6 linked regions of the Homo sapiens genome follow. The protein of the gene in region 3 purifies or fractionates together with the protein of the main gene of each other region. This does not show direct contact. Each region holds a gene or a part of one and is shown on either strand. Other genes may lie near its edges.

Region 1 (3,956 bases), on a different chromosome or scaffold from region 3:
CATGGTGAGACTCAAGCACTTGGCCACTTTCTTTTATATCCATCCAATTCACATGATTCACATAACTTAGTATTTTCTACCCCAGCAATATAACAAATAATACTTATCATCTTATCACTCCTATTACAGAATCCCATTTTAGGACAGCTTCACACAGCCCAGTATTCTTTGGCCTGTTAATAATCTCTCATCTGGTCTACAACTAATGCTATTGCATTCTGAGTATGGGCCTTTATATAAACTATAACACAAATTCAAATCAGTAAGGAACTTATCCAATAAAACTGTAATGACAACACCACCAACAAAAACTATTCCACTGCCTGGCAATTACAAAACTGTGTATTCTACAGCCCACGAGTTTTACTTCAAAGCTGGCTTATCCCAAACAGCATTACCTAGCAATAGACAAATATTTACCTATTAGAGATTTCTCCACTCAGAACGGGTACACTTAGGTAGTTTGACTTTTTAAGACTTATTGATTTTCCCTACATTTTAAAAGTTTTTTTATTAAGTGGTAATCTAGTTCAGAGGTCCAAGAGTTAATCCTAACTGAGATGCCACCCATTTTCTTGAGGCCTTGAAAACGTTATCCACAGTTTCAAAATGCCAGTACTGTAAAGGGCCTTGGAGGCTATCTGGTACTACCTCTGCAATTCACATACTGAATTAGGTGAAGCACTTTGAAAACTGACACTACTATACAAAAAGTATCATTTCCACCTATGAGGCCCAGAGAAGAACACACATAGGAAGTTAACCACACAGAACCAGGGCCTAGAACTGAGCTCTTCACTCTTAATCCCACACTCTGAACATGCCAAGTGAGCTATTTTAAATTGTTGTGGGAAGCTTCGATAAAACTGTATGCACATATTTATGCATACATGGCATTTGACAAATCCTACAAGCTAGACTTTGCAAAATTAGTACAACCCAAAGGGCACACCACTTTCCCCAAATAGTAACACTGTGCTTTCTTAGAACATTACTAGTCCCTATCTCACCTCTAGTTTCACTCCCTAATACAAACTCAACTACTCTAACCTCCTGTTCAAACCCTTTATTCTTTAAATGATGCAAGTGTATTCTATAAACAGTCATTTTCAAACACTTAGGAAAAAGAAAACAAATCTACACATCTAGACTCCCATCAGGTGAATGCAGGAGCCCTCTTCAGTAAACCCAACAAAGAAGCAGGATGTTTAATGTTGACAACAGATTCAGCACTTAAGCAAAGATGATTTACAATTTCATTTTGATGCCTCTACAAAATAACTTCGCTAAGATCACACGATACCAGAAGTTTCCAACAGGTTGTCTAGTCTTGCACAGAATTAAACTAAATCAGTTATGTGCAATTAATTCCAAAACCTTTTGGTGCACAGTGCCAACAATTAAGAGATTTCCAATATATTTTTCTGGACATACTGCTCATGGTAGCACCGGGCACTCTCCTTTTCCTAAAGTTGGTGGATGGTGGTATGGGATCAGAAACTGTTTTTAAAGTTGGTGGGGGGGGATGACAACAGGAAGATTCAAACTCTGGTTTTTCCCTTGGATTTGTATCTTTGCAGATATATTAATAAACATATCAAATATGGTATATTGTGGAGATACTGCTGCACAAGAGTCGCAGGCTTTTTTATTTCACACACTACCCAGTATACCAGCCCCTTGTCCTGACATTTCTCCTTAATAACGTACATATACAAGTCAAATTTTCTCCCTTTTCCTTCTTAGCACCAAAGACCTGTGCTTTTAAAACAAGCTCGTAGTGTCCAACGACCACGTTCCAGCAAGGAAAAGGCTCACGCTGAAGGACTTTCCGGAGTGCCCTAGGCCTCGCAGTCCTGCAGAGTAAAAGGGGGTGTGTCCGCGGTTGTTTCGGCCCTTTTCCCCCGGCAGCCCTCAGCGGCGCCCTGGGCCCCCTTTCTCGCGGCGGCCAGGGGAGCTGTTCGCAGGGCGTCCAGACCTCAGGCCACTGGCTCACTTTCTTGGAGTGGGTCCCAACCAGGGAACGAGGGCGGGGGCGGCGAGGGCACCAACGAATCCTCAAACCCCTCACTCTGAGGCCACTCGGCAGCCCCTCTTCGCCCTCCCCGCGGCGCCCCTGCCTCCTAAGTCCCTGCATGAACCACTGTCCCTCTCTCTCCCCCTCTCCCCGGCCCTGCCTCTCCCTCGCACACACGCCCAAAGGCAAAGGAGGCCCAGGGAGAAGCCAGAGGACCTGGGGGCCGCGAGAGAGGCAGGACCGGCATCTGCGGTGCCCTGGGAAGAGTCGTCCCGAGAGGTCCCCCCGAGGGGGCGCAGCCGCCACCAGAGCCCCGGCCGAGCCCGGGAGCGAAGCGGGGCCGAGCCAGGACCCACCAGCTGCTTCAGGTCCTCCTCCGAGAGCTCCGCGTAACGGTACCGCTGCTGCTCGAACTCGTACCGGGTGGTTTTGGCCACCACCACCACCCGGGAGGGGCGGAAGCCGCCGTCCGCGCGGCTGCCACAGCCCGCCAGCTCGCGCGGCTGCCCCTGCCCCAGGTGCCGCCGGCCGCCACCGTCACCGCCCAGCCGGGGCCGCGCGGCGGGGCCTCCCGCACCCGGTCCCCGCAGCGCCGCCGCCCGGCCGCCCGCCACGCGACAACAGCTGCCCAGCAAGAAGCCTCGGTAGCAAGTCATCGTGGGCCGGGCCGCGGCCGCGGGCTTGGGCTCGGGCCCCTTGCCTCAGCTCCCTACCGCCGGGAGTGCGCGCCGTCCGCGCCGCCCGGGCCTCTAACTTCGCGCCGGACGGGCAGAGGTTAAGTGCCAGGACGTGCGTGGCCCACGCGGCTAGGGGGACGTACCCAGGCGTTGACGAAGGCGGGGAAAGCGTGGCGATTGGGAAACGGGAGACCCCACGCGGGAGAAAGGTGGGCGGGGAAGAAATGGAGGCCCCAGCTAGTGGGTTTTGTTTGTTTGTTTATTCGTTTCACTCACGCCTGCATAATGGCTGCTTCGCCGCCCGGGGGCGACCTCCCCGCACCACACGCTTCCCCGAGGTCGCTCTTCTCCCGCCCCCAGGCTAACTCTATCGGCCAATCAGAGCCCGCGGCGGCTCCGGATCCGAGGGGCCGCGCCATTGGCTGCGGCCTGAGAAAGAGGTAGAATTCTGTTAGGCGATTGCGTCGCCCTGAGGAATCCAGCTGGATCCGGTCTGAGGCGGCGCGGGGCCAGCGGGTGGGGTTTTGAGCGGCTGGCGGGAAGGCAGGTTCCTGGCATATGCTCGCTTGGGTTCTGTTCTGCAGGCCGACCACGTGCCCATTGGTTTATTTGACCAGGGTCGGTGTGATAGCTGGTGTGTCTGGGGCCGGGCTGGGGGCTGAGGAGGCGGACCCGGCTCCTGCTGCACCGTGTGCGTGGCTTGGCACGAAATCCTCTCGGCGTGGGACCCAGTGCCCGCCCCGCTGCCCCCTGCCCCCCCGAAGAGCCCTACCTATAGGACAAAGTCCAAATGAATTAGTTCTTTGAAAGCTTTTAACTGGAAAGGAGTGAGTTAAAGCAATGTTTGATGACTATTGATCTGGCTTTGGAATCTTGGGTAGCTTGGGAGGCAAGAAGAGGAGGAAGGGATGCTGTTGGGATAATGACCCGTGGAGTGATCAGGACCTGGGCTGGGGTGTGACGAGAACAGAAGGAAACGTCCCATTGTAAGGGGAGAACCACATGGCAGTGCACATCCTGCTGTTCAATTCCGCAGCTCCTTAGATCCCCTTCCCCTGGCACTGTGTTTGCTCCTTTGTAGTCCTGGCGCTACGTCGCTTCTGGACTTTGGGCAGGTTACCTCATCTTTCTGGGCCTCAGATTCCTCATCTGTAAAAAGGGGGTTAGGGTGACCCCAAGGTTCTACCAAGTCCAAATCGATTCAGTGAATCTATGACTCTCCTCACGGGCCCACCAGCACCAGCGTTCATTCGTGGGTTCCC
Region 2 (3,500 bases), on a different chromosome or scaffold from region 3:
TGAGTTTAAAATTATTTTCCTTCACAATTACGAAAATATTACCCTGACTTCTAGTTTCTAATGTTGCTCTTAAGATACCAATTTGCTTACTCCGGATCCTTTAGTATATGTTTTTTCTTTTTAGTTTCTTTCTATCCCTGATGATCTTATATTTCACAATAAAATATCTTTATGTGAGTCTTTTTTCAGTGTTTGAGTGATTGCAGCGGTCACACAACTGGCCCCGTTAAATCTGGAGCCTTGTGTTCAGTTCTGTGGGTGGCAGCACAGTAAGTCATTTGGCTGCTCAGGGTGAGGTTGTGGATATTGAGCATCTCCCTGCTCCTTTGCTTTCATCCTGGAAGTAGTAGTTAGTTCCTCTAATTTCTAAGTCTTTCTGAGGTTATTGTGATCAAATGGCTTGCTTCCCAGCAGTATCTTCCTCTGTAAGAAAATAGGTTCAGCTTTTTCTGCTCTATTTGGTGAATTACCACTCCTCCCTATTCTCTCCATCTGGCAAAATTTTGTAGATTTCATTCTGTCATGTTCTCTTATTGGCCTATCTGGCTTTAAACCTGTTTTATTTCATTATTATTAATGTAACAGAGTTTCTTTAGGGTACAGAGATTCATTCAACAAATATTGAGTGCCTTCTGGAATACAGGGTGCCTGCAGATACAGGGCGTGTGTGAGTGTGTATATGCGTATATATATGCACACATATTCACACCCCACCCCCCATGTAAGACATAGAGCTCATGCCTCATGTACCTAAGAGTCTAGTGGAGGACACAAGTAATAATAAATGAATAAATGACTAAAATATATTGTCACTTAATGATAAATGCTAGGGAAAAAAGTTAGAAGAGAGTGATAGCAGTTTTAAATAAGTGATCAGAAAATGTCTCAGAAGGGGTGGCAGTTTGAGCAAAAATAAAAATGTGAGTTTCATCTATTTAACTGGAAGTTGAAAGTTTATTTTTATTAATAAGAGGGTAAAAATAACTCAATATTATCTTGCTTTAAGTTCCATAGTTTTGTTTTCTCTTTCAAATCAGGAAGATTTAGTTTATTTTTGGAAGATTACATTGTACATATATAATAGTTTTAAAATATTGTCAAGGAATTCTTGGTCAAGGGAAAAGAAAAATAAAACCAGAAAATACTGGAAAAATATGACCCCTTCATATGAAATGTTAACTATCTTAAACTATCCTTACTAGTTTTTAGCTTTATCTTTTTGCTTTTCAACAGTCCTGGAGTTTTTTTATTTGTTTTTTTTTTTGTTTTTTGTTTTTGTTTTTGTTTTGAGACAGTCTTTCTCTGTCACCCAGGCTGGAGTACAGTGGCATGATCTCAGCTCACTGCAGCCTCCACCTCCCAGGTTCAAGCAGTTCTCCTGCCTCAGCCTCCTGGGTAGCTGGGATTACAGGCGACCACCACGACGCCTGGCTAATTTTTGTATTTTTAATCGAGACAGGGTTTCACTATCTTGCCCAGGCTGGTCTTGAACTCCTGACCTCGTGATCCACCCACCTCAGCCTCCCAAAGTGCTGGGATTACAGGCATGAGGCACTGTGCCCTGCCAATTTTTCCTTTCTAAGTGTTTCTTTGTTTTGTTTTGTTTTGTTTTAATAGAGACAGGGTCTTACTCTGTTGCCTAGGCTGGAGTACGGTGGCACAATCATAGCTCAGTGAAACCTCCAACTCCTAGTCTCAAGTGATCTACCTGCCTCAGCCTCCTGGCTAATTTTTTTTATTTTTTGTAGTGGCAGGGTCTCACTGTGTTGCCCAGGCTGGTCTCGAACTCCTGGCCTCAAGCAGTCCTTCTGCCTTGGCCTCGCAAAGCACTGGAATTACAGGCATGAACCATCTCACCTGGCCTGTTTCAAATTATTTTCTGAACCTCAATTAGTAACTTCTGGTAACTTTAATAAAATACTTTAAGGCAGGTTGTTTGAAGTAAATTGTTTTCATGAGAGATTAATATTTTCCATTTATTTCTTTTGAGATAGTACTTGAAATCTTGATTATCTGTAAAAGAATGGGAGGATTTTGATTTGTGCCTTCTTTGTTAGATTTGTAAGTGGGAATTTCAGATCATTTAGATCTGTAAAGGTTTATTTTGATTAAAGTGTTTATTGGATATATAATGTTGCTAATAGATTTTAAATGGCTTTATTTTAGGTCCTGAGGAGCGACAATTCAAGGGTTTAGGTGACTGTATTATGAAAATAGCAAAATCAGATGGAATTGCTGGTTTATACCAAGGGTTTGGTGTTTCAGTACAGGGCATCATTGTGTACCGAGCCTCTTATTTTGGAGCTTATGACACAGTTAAGGTAATCTGGGGGCTTTAACTTGGACATATTAAATATATGGTTTCCATTTATTTAATTAGTAATGTTTTCAGCAGATATGTTACTTTTAATTATAAAAATAAAAATCAGTGATGAAAAAAGAGAGACATGAAATTCTGCTTAATCATGATTTTGCCATAACCTAATTAAATTATAACTGCAGTATGGATCTGACTTTAGTTATAAAGCATGTATCTAAGTTTTTGAGGTGTTTTCACTGTACATCACATTGCAAATGAAAAACACGCTAATTAAGCTTACATCATAATCAAATCATTGGTATATGGAAAGGCATCTTCTAACAGTTTTTCTGATTTTATGTTAACCCTATTATCACTTTTTTATATTCAAATAATAAAATGTCATTTTGAGAAGGAGACAAAGCAAAATTAATTAAATAAATGCTACTGTAGCTTGGTTATCTACCGGATACTGTTAGATTCTGTGTTGTATTCTCCAGGTTGTTCTGCAATTTACCTTTTCATTTCAGATTTTAAGAACACTTCCATGTGGTAGGAAAAAGAAAAATTGTAACAATGGCTACCAATTTTTAGCTATTACCTAGTTCTAGGAAACTTTTTAAAGTACTTTACATCTTGAATCTCAGAAATCACTGGTAAAGAACTTACCCATGTAACCAAAACACTACCTGTTCCCCAAAAAACCTATTGAAATAAAAAGTAATAAGAAAATAAAGATAATTGTAGTTGTTTAAAATAAATAATAAAAAAATAAAATCCCCCCTTTGTTTAAAGATAAATAGCCTAGGAATTGTTAAGTAAATAGCCTAGGAATGGTTAAGTAATTTACTTGTTAAAGGCAAGCAAAAAAAAATCCATGTTCTTAATGACTACATTATAATGCTTCCAAAAGGAAGCAATGAAATTAATATCAGTATTATTTATTAGTATAATAAATAATTATACTATACTCCTTCATTAGTATAAATGTAGTTGCATGGCATTTTTATTGTTGTCTGGACAGATCAGTTTTTAGTGTATTTTTTAGACTGCTATGTTAATGAAAATTACAGGATCTTGTACATTTATTTAATCACAAAAAAAGTTATGTGTGTACTCTGTCTCTAGTTTGTTATCACCTGCAGTAGTTATGAAATTTAGGAACATTTCTCCACTAGTTTTAAAGCTGCCCATCAAATAT
Region 3 (3,500 bases):
ATTGAGTACTAAATGACTGACACCATTGCTTGGATTGTTTTTAAGTTCTGTATCCACTGTAGAAATGCCCACTGTAAAATCGTAAGTCCCAGCAGGAGTAAAATGGTCTGAGCCCTCATTGAAATGTGTCTGATACAACCGAAATATAAAGGGACTCAATGCTATGTGTGTTTATTATTGTAGGAGTCTTATAAAAGCTATGGAGTTGCTTTCCATGTTGCAGATAATGTATATTAGAAAAAAAGGAAATGATGAAAGCAGTATATTAAACTGAAAAACTTTTATATTTAACTTTGGTGTAGAAATTTCACCTGTCTAATTTTTTAGGCTTTATAATGAAAATATACTTGGGAGAAATGTGTCTTTAACATTAGAGGAAAATGGAGAACAAGAAAGTGTAATTATATGGATAGTTCACTTAAGTGTAAATCAAAATTTGATTGTTACTAAAGGATGGATAAATTATGCTTTAGAAGGGCCAACATGGATAGTACGTTGGATTCTAGATTAAATTGTTATTAAAGTCTAATTTGAACTACAGAAACAGACATCGTCTGGCTATTATTTTAAAAAATATTTTATTTCCTTTCCATACTTTATTTCCACATTAAGATGTTCCTAACTCCTATTCATTTGGAATATAACCTATACCAGAACAATTTTGTTATATAACAAGTTTATAGTCCCATTTAACGCTTTACTTAAACAGCGTTTATTTTAGTATTTTAGTTCATCCCTGTTCTGTTGTACTTTTAACAATGAAATTAAATATATCCTTTGTGACTTGTTTAGTTTTTAATTAGTCTCACTCGGGGTTACCTTCAGGAGACCATTACACTGGCAGCTCTTGTTGCCTTGTTGCCTTTTGACATCTGCTTTCATTAAAGTCAGTGCATTTTCTTGCCTGTGTCTTCCTGCAAGGACACTGATGTTAATCATGCCAAATTGGATCCATTTCTGAGGTCTGCTGCAGGAAGCAAAATACTGAAATTATCATAAAAGTAAACCATTATTCTTCAGTTGTTAGAGCACATCATCAGAACATAAAATTGAAAACAGAATTTCTATAGTCCAATAGCTTATGACTTTTGTGCCGTATGTATTTCAAACATTTCTTGCACAGACCTAACCAGCAGACAGAATAATGACTCTTTAAAAACGAAAGAATAAGTCCTTGGCCTGTGGCCAGAAGTAGCGAAAGTGTGTTTCTGTGCCATCCTGCCCTGCATGGCTCAGGTTTCTGGAGTCAGCTCTACTTTAAGTGATTGCTGGCATCATATTCTGGTTAGCCCTAAATGGAGCTTTCCTATTAAAATACATGACTGCTGAGGTCTAAAGTACATTGAATATTCTTATTGATCAACTTGAAGAAAAAATGTTAGTATAGAAATGTCATCTATTATGGAGTTGGCCAATTGAATATTGACTATGTTTTAATGTGGTGTGAGGTTTATTTTCTCCCATTTTTTCCACAGGTATAATAAAGTGGTTTAAAAAGATAAATAAAAAAAATTATTTCTATGGTAGGCATGCTTTTGACTAGTTGTCCCTAATTATTGCAAGCTCATTCTTTGTGTTCAAAGGTTTAATTTTATATATTCCAGACGATTCAGAGAGATTAGCCACAGCTTATTTAAACAAAGAAGACACACACAAAACAAAGCGATAGTTTTTTTTTGTTTTTGTTTTTTTTTCAGAAAGAATTCAGTTGCTTACTTTTCTTAAAAACATCTTTCCCATTTCATTGAGGCAGATTTGGAAGTCAAACCAGAAACTTCAGGCTCTACTACGATGGCAAGCACTTTGTTGGGGAGAAACGCTTTGAGTCCATCCACGATCTGGTGACTGATGGCTTGATTACTCTCTATATTGAAACCAAGGCAGCAGAATACATTGCCAAGATGACGATAAACCCAATTTATGAGCACGTAGGATACACAACCTTAAACAGAGAGCCAGCATACAAAAAACATATGCCAGTCCTGAAAGAGACACATGATGAGAGAGATTCTACAGGCCAGGATGGGGTGTCAGAGAAAAGGGTAAGCTACTATGAAACCACACTTTATCTTTTTCTGTTTGGGGTTCTTTTAAGAAAGCCATTATTGCCAGAAGAGATTGATTTATCCACAGTGCTTTGGAAAGTATATTCATTTTTCTTAATGTCTAGTTTCTGTGATGCTGAGCTTTGCATATAACTAATTCTTGTTCTATTAAAATATGTTAGGTAAATTTTTATATTCCTGGTTGTTTTCTGTTTTATCAGTTTCACAATTTTAAAACTATGTTGGAAAAATGGCCCCTAATAAAAAATAGTTCAGGGGATTGGTCAGAAGCATAACTCCTGGTCAAGAAAAGATAGCTACTATTACGTAAGTAATTGAGGGGGTTGCATTATCTCTCAAAATTACTTTTTTGTTTTCCTTAAAGATAATTTACTTTATAAATAGTTGTGTTCTTAGCAAGATTTTATGTGTGTGTGTATATTATGTGTGTGTGTATGTATACACACACATTTTGGGAGTCAGTCATTCTTGAATAGGAGGAGGATTTATCTCTTTATAATCTGTTAAGAAGTAATTGAATGAGTAAGATTCACTTTTACTTTTCCTTAATTATAAAAGACAATTAATTCTAAAAGACAATTTAAGTTTTTTAGCTGTCATATTTTAGTTGTGATATATTTCAGGTTAACATAAAAGTTTTAATTTCTTGGCATTAAGATTATTTTACTTTTGAAAATTGCCACCAGCCTCCTCCTCACCCCCAAGAAAAAAGTAAGAGATTTTCCTGATGTTTTATAGTGTGTGACATTTAGTTGGGGGCATTTTAGGTATTGTAATTGGAACTGTGTCAATTCATTTTTATGTTTTTAAGAATCTTCAATTGCTAAACCAAAGAAATGCAATAGGTCTTGAGCTCGGATTCTATGCAAGATTTGTGTGCAAGTTGTAATACCTAATTTGTCTGTGCTTTTGATTGTCTTATTTGTAAAATTGTAATAATGGTCAAATTGCTGTGAGGAGTGAGTGAGATAGCAAGCGTAAAATGCTCCATCAGCACTTGGCACATGTAGACACTCAATGTAGTTTGGTGGTAATGTTATTATATAGCAGCCATCTGACCTCAAGGCAGCATCCTCAAATAACTTCCCATTACCTTAGAGTATTTGGGTACAGAATGGAAATAAGAAAGTTTGTGTCCAGCTCAAATTTTAGTTTTTGGCAGATCTTACATTGGCATTTTGTTGCTACGGAGAAAACAACATTTAAAAGGATAAGCTGTAGAAAATGTATAAAAATTGTTTTTTTATATATTCATATTGTTAGGAACCACAAATCTTGTTTGGAAGTAGCCAGAACTTAAAATCCTTAATACCTGCTGTATTTAATATTCTTTTCATGGTCTAGTTCCCATTTTCTGACTATTGGTTGATTTTCCATTTATGGCATTTTTTAGTAATGCTTGTATTTGAATAATACTGACATTATATTCTTTGC
Region 4 (3,500 bases), on a different chromosome or scaffold from region 3:
TATAAACTGCCATTAAGTTTTCAACCACTGGATTTCCAGTGGGGTCAGAACTATAGAATCTTAAGCATGGAATAGAGGTTAAAAGATCTATTTTCTTCTTCCACTCTTATCCACACTCACAATCCTTGGCCTTGTCTGACAGATGAAAATAGTGATGGTTAGAGAGATGCCATCCTGACTCTTATACTCTGGTAGTGTCTAGGTTTTCTTCAATACTTTGCTCGGTACTTTAATTGCTTCTCTACCTCCATAGGATATGGAATCCCAGTGTATTACTACTTATTTCATAGTGTATGTAGGTTATTTTGCATGTCCTGCCACCACAGCTATGTAGAGCATGGAACATGGTGTCATGTCTCTGGGGTTCCTAGGACCTTACACATAGCAAGTGCTTAATAAATGAAAGCATATTGAGAAAGTAGACTGGTCATTTTATAATTCTCCCATTTCACTGACTCTTCAGAGATATTTGTTTCCTTGTAATTTTGCTGATTTGTTAGAGTACGGTACTCAACCATTTAATACATTTAGAGATTGAGAAAGGCACATTTTCACTTCCTAATTACAAAATGAGCAAGTTTACGATCTGTGTTTGATACTATAAGGTTTCTATTTCTTTTTTCTTCATAAATGTTTACATTAATACATGTAAAAAAGTTTTAAGAAATAAAATGACTAAACTTGCCTAAACAAAATCAACTAAGCATATTGCCACTACTTTCTGTATTTACATATATATGTGCATACTTAAAAAGTCTATATACCCTAGTTTCAAAAGCAATTGAAATTTCATAAATGCATTTATATATAAATATTCTTAATCTAGTCACTACTATAAAACATGTTTTCCTCAAATTTCCTTTTAGGTTTAAGTTTTAATACTAAAAATAACTTCTTATGGTAATAAAAAATGTTAAAGTCTACATCAATAATATCTCAACAAATGGGAATCATTCCTCTTACACTGAAATTTCCTTTACATAAGTCACCTAATTTACTTATTTAAATGGTTTATTCAAATAACTAGAGTGTTTACATTTGCACCTTTCTTGCAATCACCAATGCATAGTTTCCACCTCTTTTCTGGAAATGTTTCCCAAATGGATTACATTCATATATATAGCAAGCAATTCTAAAAGCAAGCAGTATTACAATCACCAATGTAAGTTGCTTAATATAGTCCCTAAAATATAGTAGGAATTTAGTAAATTATGTTGCTGTTCTGCAATCACCTTTTGCACTTATGGAGTACATCCCACATTTAATAAGCTATTTGGTGCTATGAATCTCCAGGAAAGAACAGAGGCAGGTTTTATGTAAGGTGAAAACTATGAGTTAATTCCCTGGGAATGAAAATCATTTTCATAAAAATAAATATTTATCTTAATAGAACGTTAATCTTACAGTTCTCTTCCATTTCCAGACATCTTGAATCCACCAAAGGGGCACTGGGCACTTACCACGCCATAGCAATTCACCCTGAAGGAAAAGAAAAGTGCATTATAGACAATACTTAAGGTGTGAAAAAAAAATCCTTTTTGGCAGTTTTAGAAATTTGGAAAGCTCCTTACAAACTCCATTAATTTCATTATAACATACTCATCTTGATAAAAAAAAGTAGCACTATAAATTAGAATGCAGACATATATGGATACACACTACCTAGAAACAAATAGAATAGTGCAACTATATATATGGATAGCCATTTTGGTCGTACATTGTGTCCCTGAGAAGTGGTAGTCTGAATTTATAAAAGATAGAATAGTCACTATGCTGTAGGGGGAAAGATATGGTTTGCTAGAAGCTAGAATTTGTTGGATCAGTATTCATTACTGCTTATATATGGATCAGCTTGTAATTCTCTTGATGTTTCTGTACTTAACAGGCTAGAATCAATTTTCTTTTGCAATTGTAATATGTATCATATTACTCAGTTAATTTTTTTTCCCATTAATTGGTTAAATAAATTGCTTAAACAGAGGCCTTGGCAGGAGTTGGGTTTAATTATAATTTATTCCCTGTCATATTTCATAAAGTGTTTAAAGATGCTTATATAAACAAACATAATTACATGAATAGTAGTAATTAGAATCCAACAAAAAATTACAATAGAAGATCTAGATGGGGAAAATTAGAATGCAGTTTTGCAGACCATAAACAATTTGTTTAGCTTTAAATTTGCTGGTGGCCAAAAGTTAGCAAAATCTAATTATTTACCTGATTCTCATTATACGCAAGAGAAAAACACTTTTTAAAGGAGATTTATGTTTATACTTTTCTCTCCCTTCATGCTATTTTAATAAGTGGACAAAAATGTGGCTTCCAGAGCCTGGGTTAGTAGCTGGAGACTGAGGCAGGAGGATCACTTGAGCCCAAGAGTTTGAGACCAGCCTGGGCAACATAGCAAACCCTTGCCTCTACAAAACAAATTTAGAAAACCAACCAAACAAACAAACAAAAAACCAGGGTGGCTTCCAGATAAATTGTATTATACTTTGAAGGTTTGGTCATTACTTTTATCCTGAGATAATATTCAGATGTTTTCTTTGTTAAAACACTATCCCAGTTCCCGAAGTTCCACATTCTCACTGGACCATAAAGTTCTTAACTATGTCTCTCATCCTGGAGGGATAATTCCTTTAATAAATTTACACTTACAAAAGGCAGTATTGTCTCAGCTTTGTTTAATTGCCCTTTAAATTGCAAAATCAAATACTACTTTGAAATTATGAGTAAACTTCCTGCAACTCTGGAGTTCAATAATTTTCCTGAAAACACCAAGCAGCTATTAGGTCTGGGACAATGCCAGAAAATTATTATCTTCTAGGATATGTAGTAACAAGATGGTCCCCTCTGTTTTTCATAATAGAGGAAATTCCTGATCAGGGATTCCCAAGACCCTCAGTGGGGTGATGTCATAACAAGCTTCATCAAACAAGCATGGAACATTCTGCTAGTCGAAAATACAAAACTGAAATTTGTCTTTGTTAAAAAGTGCAGAGAGTAAATTTGCTCATTTTACTGTCAACTAGAAATGAAACTATTTTACTGTGAATTAACAGGGAACTGAGAAATGTTCACTTGGCAAAAACTTTGAGTTCAAAATGTTATCTGTCTTCTGCAAGCGTTTCCTCATGTGTAAAGTGGGGATGATAATATTTAATAGGATTGTTTCAAGGTATGCGTAAGATTGCGTGAATAGTATTCTTGTTGTAGTACTTGGTATAAATATCTTCAGTAAGTGGCGATAATATACATACACACAGTAACTATGCTGAATTTTATTAATGCTTTTATCATAGGCAAATTCTATATTCATCACTAGCTATACCGACTATTCAAGAAGAACTTGCTGAATTTTATTTAAGAGTCTCCCATTAGGCCCACTTCCTATTGCTGTTACAATGGCATTTAAATTGCCACATGGGCTTTGGAGGAGAAATTTAAACTATACACTGATATAATTTGTGTTAATGTATACCCTCCCCTGCCCCAAATCA
Region 5 (3,500 bases), about 67 Mb from region 3:
AGAGTCCTCCCTCCCTCCCTGGGATCTTCCCTTCCTGGGATCTTCCCTCATTCCCTGGGATCTTCCCTTCCTAGGATCTTCCCTCCCTCTCTGGCATCTTCCCTCCCTGTGGTCCTCCCTCCCTGGGATCCTCCTTTCCTAGGATCTTCCCTTCCTAGAGTCCTCCCTCCCTCCCTGGGATCTTCCCTCCATCGGCTTCTCCCTCCCTCCCTGAGGTCCTCCCTCACTCCCTGTGATCTCCCCTTCCTGGGATCTTCCCTCCCTGGGGTCCTCCTTCCCTAGGATCTTCCCTTCCTGGAGTCCTCCCTTGCTCCCTGTAGTCCTCTCTCCCTGGGATATTCCCTCCCTGGAGTCCTCCCTCCCTGAGGTCCTCCCTCACTCCCTGTGATCTTCCCTTCCTGGGATCTCCCTCCCTGGGGTCCTCCTTCCCTAGGATCTTCCCTTCCTGGGGTCCTCCTTTGCTCCCTGTGGTCCTCCCTCCCTGGGATTTTCCCTCCCCATGGTCTTCCTCCCCCAGGGCCCTCCCCCAGTAGGGTCCTCCTTCCCTGAGATCCTCTCTCCCTGGGGTCCTCCCTCCCTGGAGTCCTTCCTCCCCCAGTGGGGTCCTCCCTCCCTGGGGTCCTCTTTCCCTGTTCTTTCTTCAAGGGTCTTATCCCTCTGCACTGCCTCCTCCTGACAATGAGCGCCAAAACCCTCAGGCAGGTGTTTGTAAAATTTAATTCCACTTCTCAGGCCCTCAGCAAGAAGAGGTCAGTTTGAATTAGCTCATCTGCCACCACCGGAAGCAGACCCCATTTGTTTTAAAGTATACTTTTAAAAATTACACCTTTATTATAGAAAAAAATAATTGAAAGTATAAGACAGAAATCACTCATCACTGGCCAGTTGCTGTGGCTCACGCCTGTAATGCCAGCACTTTAGGAGGTCAAGATGGTAGGATCGCTTGAAGCTGAGAGTTTGAGACCTGCCTGGGGAACATGGCGAAGCCAAATCTCCAAAAATCTTTTTTTTTTTTTTTTTTTTTTAATTAGCTGAGCAAAAGTGGTGTGTGCCTGTAGTCCCAGCTACTTGGGAGGCTGAGATGGGAGAATCACTTAAGCCCAGGAGGTCAAGGCTGTAGTGAGCCGTGATCGTACCACTGCACTCCAGCCCCAGTGACAGAGTGAGACCTCGTCTCAAAAAAAAAAAAAAAAAAAAAAAAAACACAGAGAAAAGAAACAAGAAAAAGAACTCTATCATCGTACCCACTCAGCAGTGATGGCTGCAGGCATCTGCTGCATGGTTGCCATCACCCACGGGCTGTTTTGTCAGGACACTGGTTTTCCTTTCCTTTCATGGCAGCCCCAGTTCACTTAACTAGTCACCTGTCACTGGACGCTTGGCTGTGGCTGGTTGTTGAGGACTGTAACATTGTTGGATCTCTGTCTTTCTGCACATCCTTAATTATGTCCTTCAGATCAATTCCAAAATGTAGATTTGTCTGAGCAAAGGTGTTTACGGCCTTGGGCACTCCTGCTAAATTGCTGTTGGAGCACCTGCGCCAGCTGACCTTCCCACCTGCAGGAGCTAGGTCTAAACATGCATCTTTCCCTCCACCATGGAAAGTGCTAGGCACCTGTCTCTCTTACTCTTCCCAAGTGGGTAAGGTAAGCAGCCCCATCGAGCAGCCCCATCATTTCACTTTGCATCCCTGCGGACTGTCGGTGAGGCCAGCCTGGCCCCTGTGTCCTGGCATTCCATGCTTTTCCTCTCAGGAATCACTCAGCGTGCTGGTCACTCTGGTCTCCATTGGTCTGTGAGTTTTTTGTACACATTAGTGAAATGTTTATATGATAATGCTCACCAACACTATTAAGTCACAAATTATTTTCTCAGTAACTGCTTTTTACTTTGCCTACAATTTAGTTTTACCTTGTAGAATTTAAACTCCATCTTGATGGGTTCTGTTTCTCTTACTCTAGAATGGCATCTGGCACATATAGGGAACCCAGCAAATGCTTGTTGAAGGTGTGAATTGAAACAGACACTCCTCAACTTATGATGGGGCTATGCCCTGATAAACCCATTGTAAGAGGAAAATAGTATAGTCAAAAATGCATTTAACAGGGCACGGTGGCTCACGTCTGTAATCCCAGCACTTTGGGAGGCTGAGGTGGGTGAATCACCTAAGGTCAGGAGTTTAAGACCAGCCTGGCCAACAGGGCGAAACCCTGTCTCTACTAAAAATACAAAAATTAGCCAGGCGTGGTGGTGGGCACCTGTAGTCCCAACTACTCGGGAGGCTAAGCACAAGAATCACTTGAACCTGGGAGGCGGAGGTTGCACTGAGCCGAGATCACACCACTGCACTCCAGCCTGGGTGACAGAACAAGACTCCCTCTCAAAAAAAAAAAAAAGAAAGAAAAGAAAATGCATTTAATACACTTAACCTCTCTGATGTCATAGCTTAGCCTAGCCTACTCTTTTTTTTTTTTTTTTTTTTTGAGATGGAATCGCTCTGTCGCCCAGGCTGGAGTGCAGTGGTGCCATCTTGGCTCTCTGCAAGCTCCACCTCCCGGGTTCACGCCATTCTCCTACCTCAGCTTCCTGAGTAGCTGGGACTACAGGCGCCCGCCACCACGCCTGGCTAATTTTTTGTATTTTTTAGTAGAGACGGGGTTTCACCGTGTTAGGCAGGATGGTCTCGATCTCCTGACCTCGTGATCCACCCGCCTCGGCCTCCCAAAGTGCTGGGATTACAGGCGTGAGCCAGCCTAGCCTACTCTAAATGTGCTCAGAACATACATTAGCTTACAGTTGGGCAAAATCATCTAATATGAAGCCTATTTTATAACAAAGTGTTGAATATCTCACATAATTTGTTGAATACCAAACTGGAAGTGAAAAACAGAATGGTCGTATGGGCACTTGAAGTTCCGTTTCTACTGAATGCTTATCACTTTCACACCATCATAAAGTTGAAAAATCAGGGCCTATCAGGGTCAGCTCTGGCTGTCTTTTCCTTGAGGGTTTCTATCCTTAGTATGGGCTCAGGAAGTTCTTCCCCATGCCAATATTATATTGGCACCTTTTAATGGTTTCAGTTTTCTCATTTAATTAATCTCCCTAGAATTTGTTTTTTTACTTTTTTGGTTTTTTTTTTTTTTTTTTTAGATGGAGTCTTGCTCTGTGTCCCAGGCTGGAGTGCCCAGGCACGATCTCGGCTCACTGCAAACTCCGCCTCCTGGGTTCACACCATTCTCCTGCCTCAGCCTCCCAAGTAGCTGGGACTACAGGTGGCTAATTTTTTGTATTTTTAGTAGAGACGGGGTTTCACCGTGTTAGCCAGGATGGTCTCGATCTCCTGACCTTGTGATCCGCCCGCCTCGGCCTCCCAAAGTGCTGGGATTACAGGTGTGAGCCACCGTGCCTGGCCTAGAATTTGTTTTGATAGATATTAGATTGAGATGTAACATTTCTCCCCATTATTTGTTGAATCCTTCATTTTCTCACTGATCTCA
Region 6 (3,500 bases), on a different chromosome or scaffold from region 3:
TTGTCACTAGCAATTTATGAGAATGTTCCTCTCACCTCACCATCATCAGCACTGAGGTTTATCATTTTTTAAAATCTTGGCTGATACATAAAATATGGCATCTCATTTTGGTTTTAGTTTACATGTCTTTTGACTGATGAGACTGAACTCTTAACACGTTCATTAAGCTCCTATATGCCCTCTTTTGATAAATTACCGGTTAGCAGAACCCTCCTACCCACCTACAGTAGATACAGAGCATAACACAGAATCCGAACTTTGTGTTGTAAGCCACTAGAGATGTGGGGTTATCTGTTACAGCAGCATAACCACAGTATCCTATCTTCACATCTTTGCCCCATTTTTCCATTAGGACAATAATAGACACTGTTCATTGTTACCTCAAAGCCTTCACTTTAGTAACAAGTCCCAATTTATAAAGCAGGGCACATTTCTGGACTCTAGATAGGATTCAGTAGACAGGTGAAGCATGAAACAGGTGCTGGTCAATGAGACAGAGCGGGCCTGTGTGGCATTTCCCAAAGGTACTCTCCTTTTTTTTTTTTTTTTGAGACGGAGTCTCGCTCTACATGTAGCCCAGGCTGGAGTGCAGTGGCGCGATCTCGGCTCACTGCAACCTCGGCTCACTGCAACCTCTGCCTCCCGGGTCCTGGTTCAAGCGATTCTCCTGCCTCAGCCTCCTAAGTAGCTGGGATTACGGAGTGAGCCACCACGGCTGGCTAGTTCTTGTATTTTTACTAGAGACGGACGGGGTTTCACCATGTTGGCCAGGCTGGTCTTGAACGCCTGACCTCGTGATCTGCCTGCCTTGGCCCCCCAAAGTGCTGGGAGTACAGGCCCAAAGGTACTCTTAAAAGGGAAGAACACCCTCACCTCCCCCTCTGCTGTTTCTGCTGCCGGAAACATGGCTGTGATGCTGTTTGCTGTGGCAACATCTGGAACAAGGTTACGGCCACCCTGGGAGGGGTAGAGTGCTTAAACTGCAAAGAGCCTGGCTGTTGGTGTCTTCATGGAAGCATCACCTGCCTGGGACTGCTTATCTCCAGACTTTGTTCACACTGGAGACTATGCAGCCACCTTGCTGAAGTCACTGTGCTTTCTGGTGAATACAGCCATGCTGACTCCTGAGGGGCAAGGTTGGCAGGGGAGCTATGATGTTACAGATTTCTACCAAGTCATGATATTAACAGTTTGTCAGCAGATCTAAGACAACTCTTGTTCTCAGTTTCACTTTTTAAAATTGCTTTCAGTGTTGCTTATGATGTTTCCTGACCTACAAGTTTTTAAACTTTTCAGTACTCCTCTGTTTTCCTTTCATTTCTGTTTTCTTTATTCTCAGTAAATCTTCATTCAACTTTTTTTTTTTTGTAAAAAAGGATACAGTTTCTGTAAGTGGATCCAAGTTACTGAAAGAAACAAGAGAAATGTCTCTAGTAAGCAGCGTTTACAATAACCAGTTGAAATAAGCCTGCTAAAGCTAACAGTAATATGCCACAAGGAAAACAAAACATGTTTCATCAACAACTTTAAGGCCAACTTTAGGGCTGAGGCAGATGATTTAATCTACCTAATAGCCATAATAAGCTGTCACAGCCACTATTAAGGTGTTTACATATTTTTTCACTTAACTGCTACTTGCTTCTTTAAAATTCAAGTTAATAAATCTACATCTTGTGTTTTCTAAGTGGCAATAAATTGCTAATGGAACTGGAGACCAACTAGGGATGTATCTCGCAGAGACAGAAGGTCAAACTCGCCCGCTGCAGCATCCAACCCCATGGATCCTCCCCGCCTGTGTCTGGGTCTTCCCTGACAATTGCTCCTTTATTCCACCCTCTAAATGTGGTCACTCCCACCACTCGGTTTTTGCTCCCCACTCCTATTCTACACTCCCACCTCCCTGTCCCCACCATCCCCATTCCTATGTGTTCAATCACGTGTTCTTAGTGGATGCCTCCCAACCTGGCTCCGATGCTGTGGGCAGCTCACCAGCACATCCCAGCACACCATTCCCAAATCTGCATTCTGAAAACCCATCTCCATCCCCTCACTTCCCTAGTCAATTAATGGAGCCACTATTTTGTCAGGTTCAAAACCAGCTACTTTTCAACTGTTCTCTTCTGATTTCTAGTCAAATTCTCCTTTGAGACCCATAACAATGCTAGTCATATCATATTTCTGTAGTCCAGCAGTTCTTAAACTGTTTGGTTTCAGAACTCCTTTACGCTAAAAAGTTACTGAAGACTCCAAAGAACTTTTGTTTATACGCGTAATATCTACTGAGATTTAAAAATTTTAAATATTCACTCAAAAATAATAAATCAATTACACGTTAACACAAATACCTTTACCAAAAAAATCACTATACTTCCGAAAACAAAACAAAACAAAATCCAGTGACAACAATGGCATTGTTTTAACAATTCTGCAACGTCCTGCTTAAAAGACAACGGGATTCTCAAGCATTTGTTATGCTTGCTGCTGAAAGATCACACCTTGGGAAGCTCCACTGTCTACTTGTGAGGGAATGACAGTGGAAAAGATGAAAAACCTTCTTAATACATCATGAAGATAGCTCTAACCTCACACAACACCTGAAACAATCTTGGGGACCCCAAACCCTGGCCCACTCCTTGAGAATCACTGCTCTAATACAGTGCAGGGAGTCACTCCACCACACCTTTCGACGACTGAACTGCTTTATCTCCTCTTGTCTGCCCACCCGCACCCTCACCTCCAGCCCCGCCATCTCAGGGGCTTCCTATTTCATCACTAAGAAGAGAAAACAGGAAGAAGTCTTTGCCAAAGTCCCCCCCCCCCCCCGCCCACCGAACCCACGCACACAGGCATCTGCACCCATATGCTACTTGCTCTCCTGTCAATAGGCACGGAGTGCGGGCGAGAGACCCCCTCAGTACTCGGGACCCTCCTCCTGCAATTCTCTTTCCCTCCTGCATCTGCATCTTCAATTTCTCTTTCCTGGAAGAAATGTACAAATATGATGTGCACTGAGCCATCAGCTCCTCTTGAACAGCTTCCCACTCCTGGGACAGCCTGAAATGCTGTCTTCACTCAGCTTCTGAGACCATGGGGTTCTCCTCTCACCTCACTGAGCCACACGGTCTCCTTTACTTGAACACTTGATGCCCTAAGGCGCCATCTTACAAACTCTTAGCCTTTTTTTCTACACTTGTGCTGACCCCCAAATTTCCATCTTTAGCTCAGACCTAATCTTGAGACGCCCATGCCCAGATGCCTTCCTGGCCCCTCCACCTGGGTTTCTTGGTGCACTTGGCAGAGAAGTTCAGGTCTTATGATGGCCTCTCCAGGCCCTGCCCTTCTAACTCTCTGCTGTTATCCCCTTACCCTCCCATGCTCACTCTGTACCAGCCATGCGGCCTGCCTCCTATTTGAAACAGGGGTGTCTTCACTTACTGTTCCCTCTATCTGGAAGCTCCCCTGGCCCCCAGTGTTCATGTAACTCATTCCTAACTTCCCCA

What was found.
Region 1: the proteins of CHN1 (region 3) and NADK2 fractionate together in Homo sapiens (co-fractionation; one large-scale study listed by BioGRID). This does not show direct contact.
Region 2: the proteins of CHN1 (region 3) and SLC25A31 purify together in Homo sapiens (affinity purification with mass spectrometry; one large-scale study listed by BioGRID and IntAct). This does not show direct contact.
Region 4: the proteins of CHN1 (region 3) and ALDH1A1 purify together in Homo sapiens (affinity purification with mass spectrometry; one large-scale study listed by BioGRID and IntAct). This does not show direct contact.
Region 5: the proteins of CHN1 (region 3) and FARP2 purify together in Homo sapiens (affinity purification with mass spectrometry; one large-scale study listed by BioGRID and IntAct). This does not show direct contact.
Region 6: the proteins of CHN1 (region 3) and NAA20 fractionate together in Homo sapiens (co-fractionation; one large-scale study listed by BioGRID). This does not show direct contact.

What each region holds. Positions count from the first base shown.
Region 1 is NC_000005.10:36,239,126-36,243,081, forward strand, and holds the start of NADK2 (NAD kinase 2, mitochondrial), read right to left. Parts: upstream 2,801-3,956; 5' UTR 2,674-2,800; coding exon 2,374-2,673; intron 2,267-2,373; exon of another isoform or gene 2,234-2,266; intron 1,731-2,233; exon of another isoform or gene 1,711-1,730; intron 1-1,710. UniProt on the Homo sapiens protein: Mitochondrial NAD(+) kinase that phosphorylates NAD(+) to yield NADP(+). Can use both ATP or inorganic polyphosphate as the phosphoryl donor.
Region 2 is NC_000004.12:127,764,900-127,768,399, forward strand, and holds part of SLC25A31 (ADP/ATP translocase 4), read left to right. Parts: intron 1-2,166; coding exon 2,167-2,321; intron 2,322-3,500. UniProt on the Homo sapiens protein: ADP:ATP antiporter that mediates import of ADP into the mitochondrial matrix for ATP synthesis, and export of ATP out to fuel the cell.
Region 3 is NC_000002.12:174,876,382-174,879,881, reverse strand, and holds part of CHN1 (N-chimaerin), read left to right. Parts: intron 1-1,753; coding exon 1,754-2,042; intron 2,043-3,500. UniProt on the Homo sapiens protein: GTPase-activating protein for p21-rac and a phorbol ester receptor. Involved in the assembly of neuronal locomotor circuits as a direct effector of EPHA4 in axon guidance.
Region 4 is NC_000009.12:72,904,554-72,908,053, forward strand, and holds part of ALDH1A1 (aldehyde dehydrogenase 1A1), read right to left. Parts: intron 1,480-3,500; coding exon 1,405-1,479; intron 1-1,404. UniProt on the Homo sapiens protein: Cytosolic dehydrogenase that catalyzes the irreversible oxidation of a wide range of aldehydes to their corresponding carboxylic acid.
Region 5 is NC_000002.12:241,485,285-241,488,784, forward strand, and holds part of FARP2 (FERM, ARHGEF and pleckstrin domain-containing protein 2), read left to right. Parts: intron 1-3,500. UniProt on the Homo sapiens protein: Functions as a guanine nucleotide exchange factor that activates RAC1. May have relatively low activity. Plays a role in the response to class 3 semaphorins and remodeling of the actin cytoskeleton.
Region 6 is NC_000020.11:20,020,362-20,023,861, reverse strand, and holds part of NAA20 (N-alpha-acetyltransferase 20), read right to left. Parts: intron 1,407-3,500; coding exon 1,382-1,406; intron 1-1,381. UniProt on the Homo sapiens protein: Catalytic subunit of the NatB complex which catalyzes acetylation of the N-terminal methionine residues of peptides beginning with Met-Asp, Met-Glu, Met-Asn and Met-Gln. Proteins with cell cycle functions are overrepresented in the pool of NatB substrates.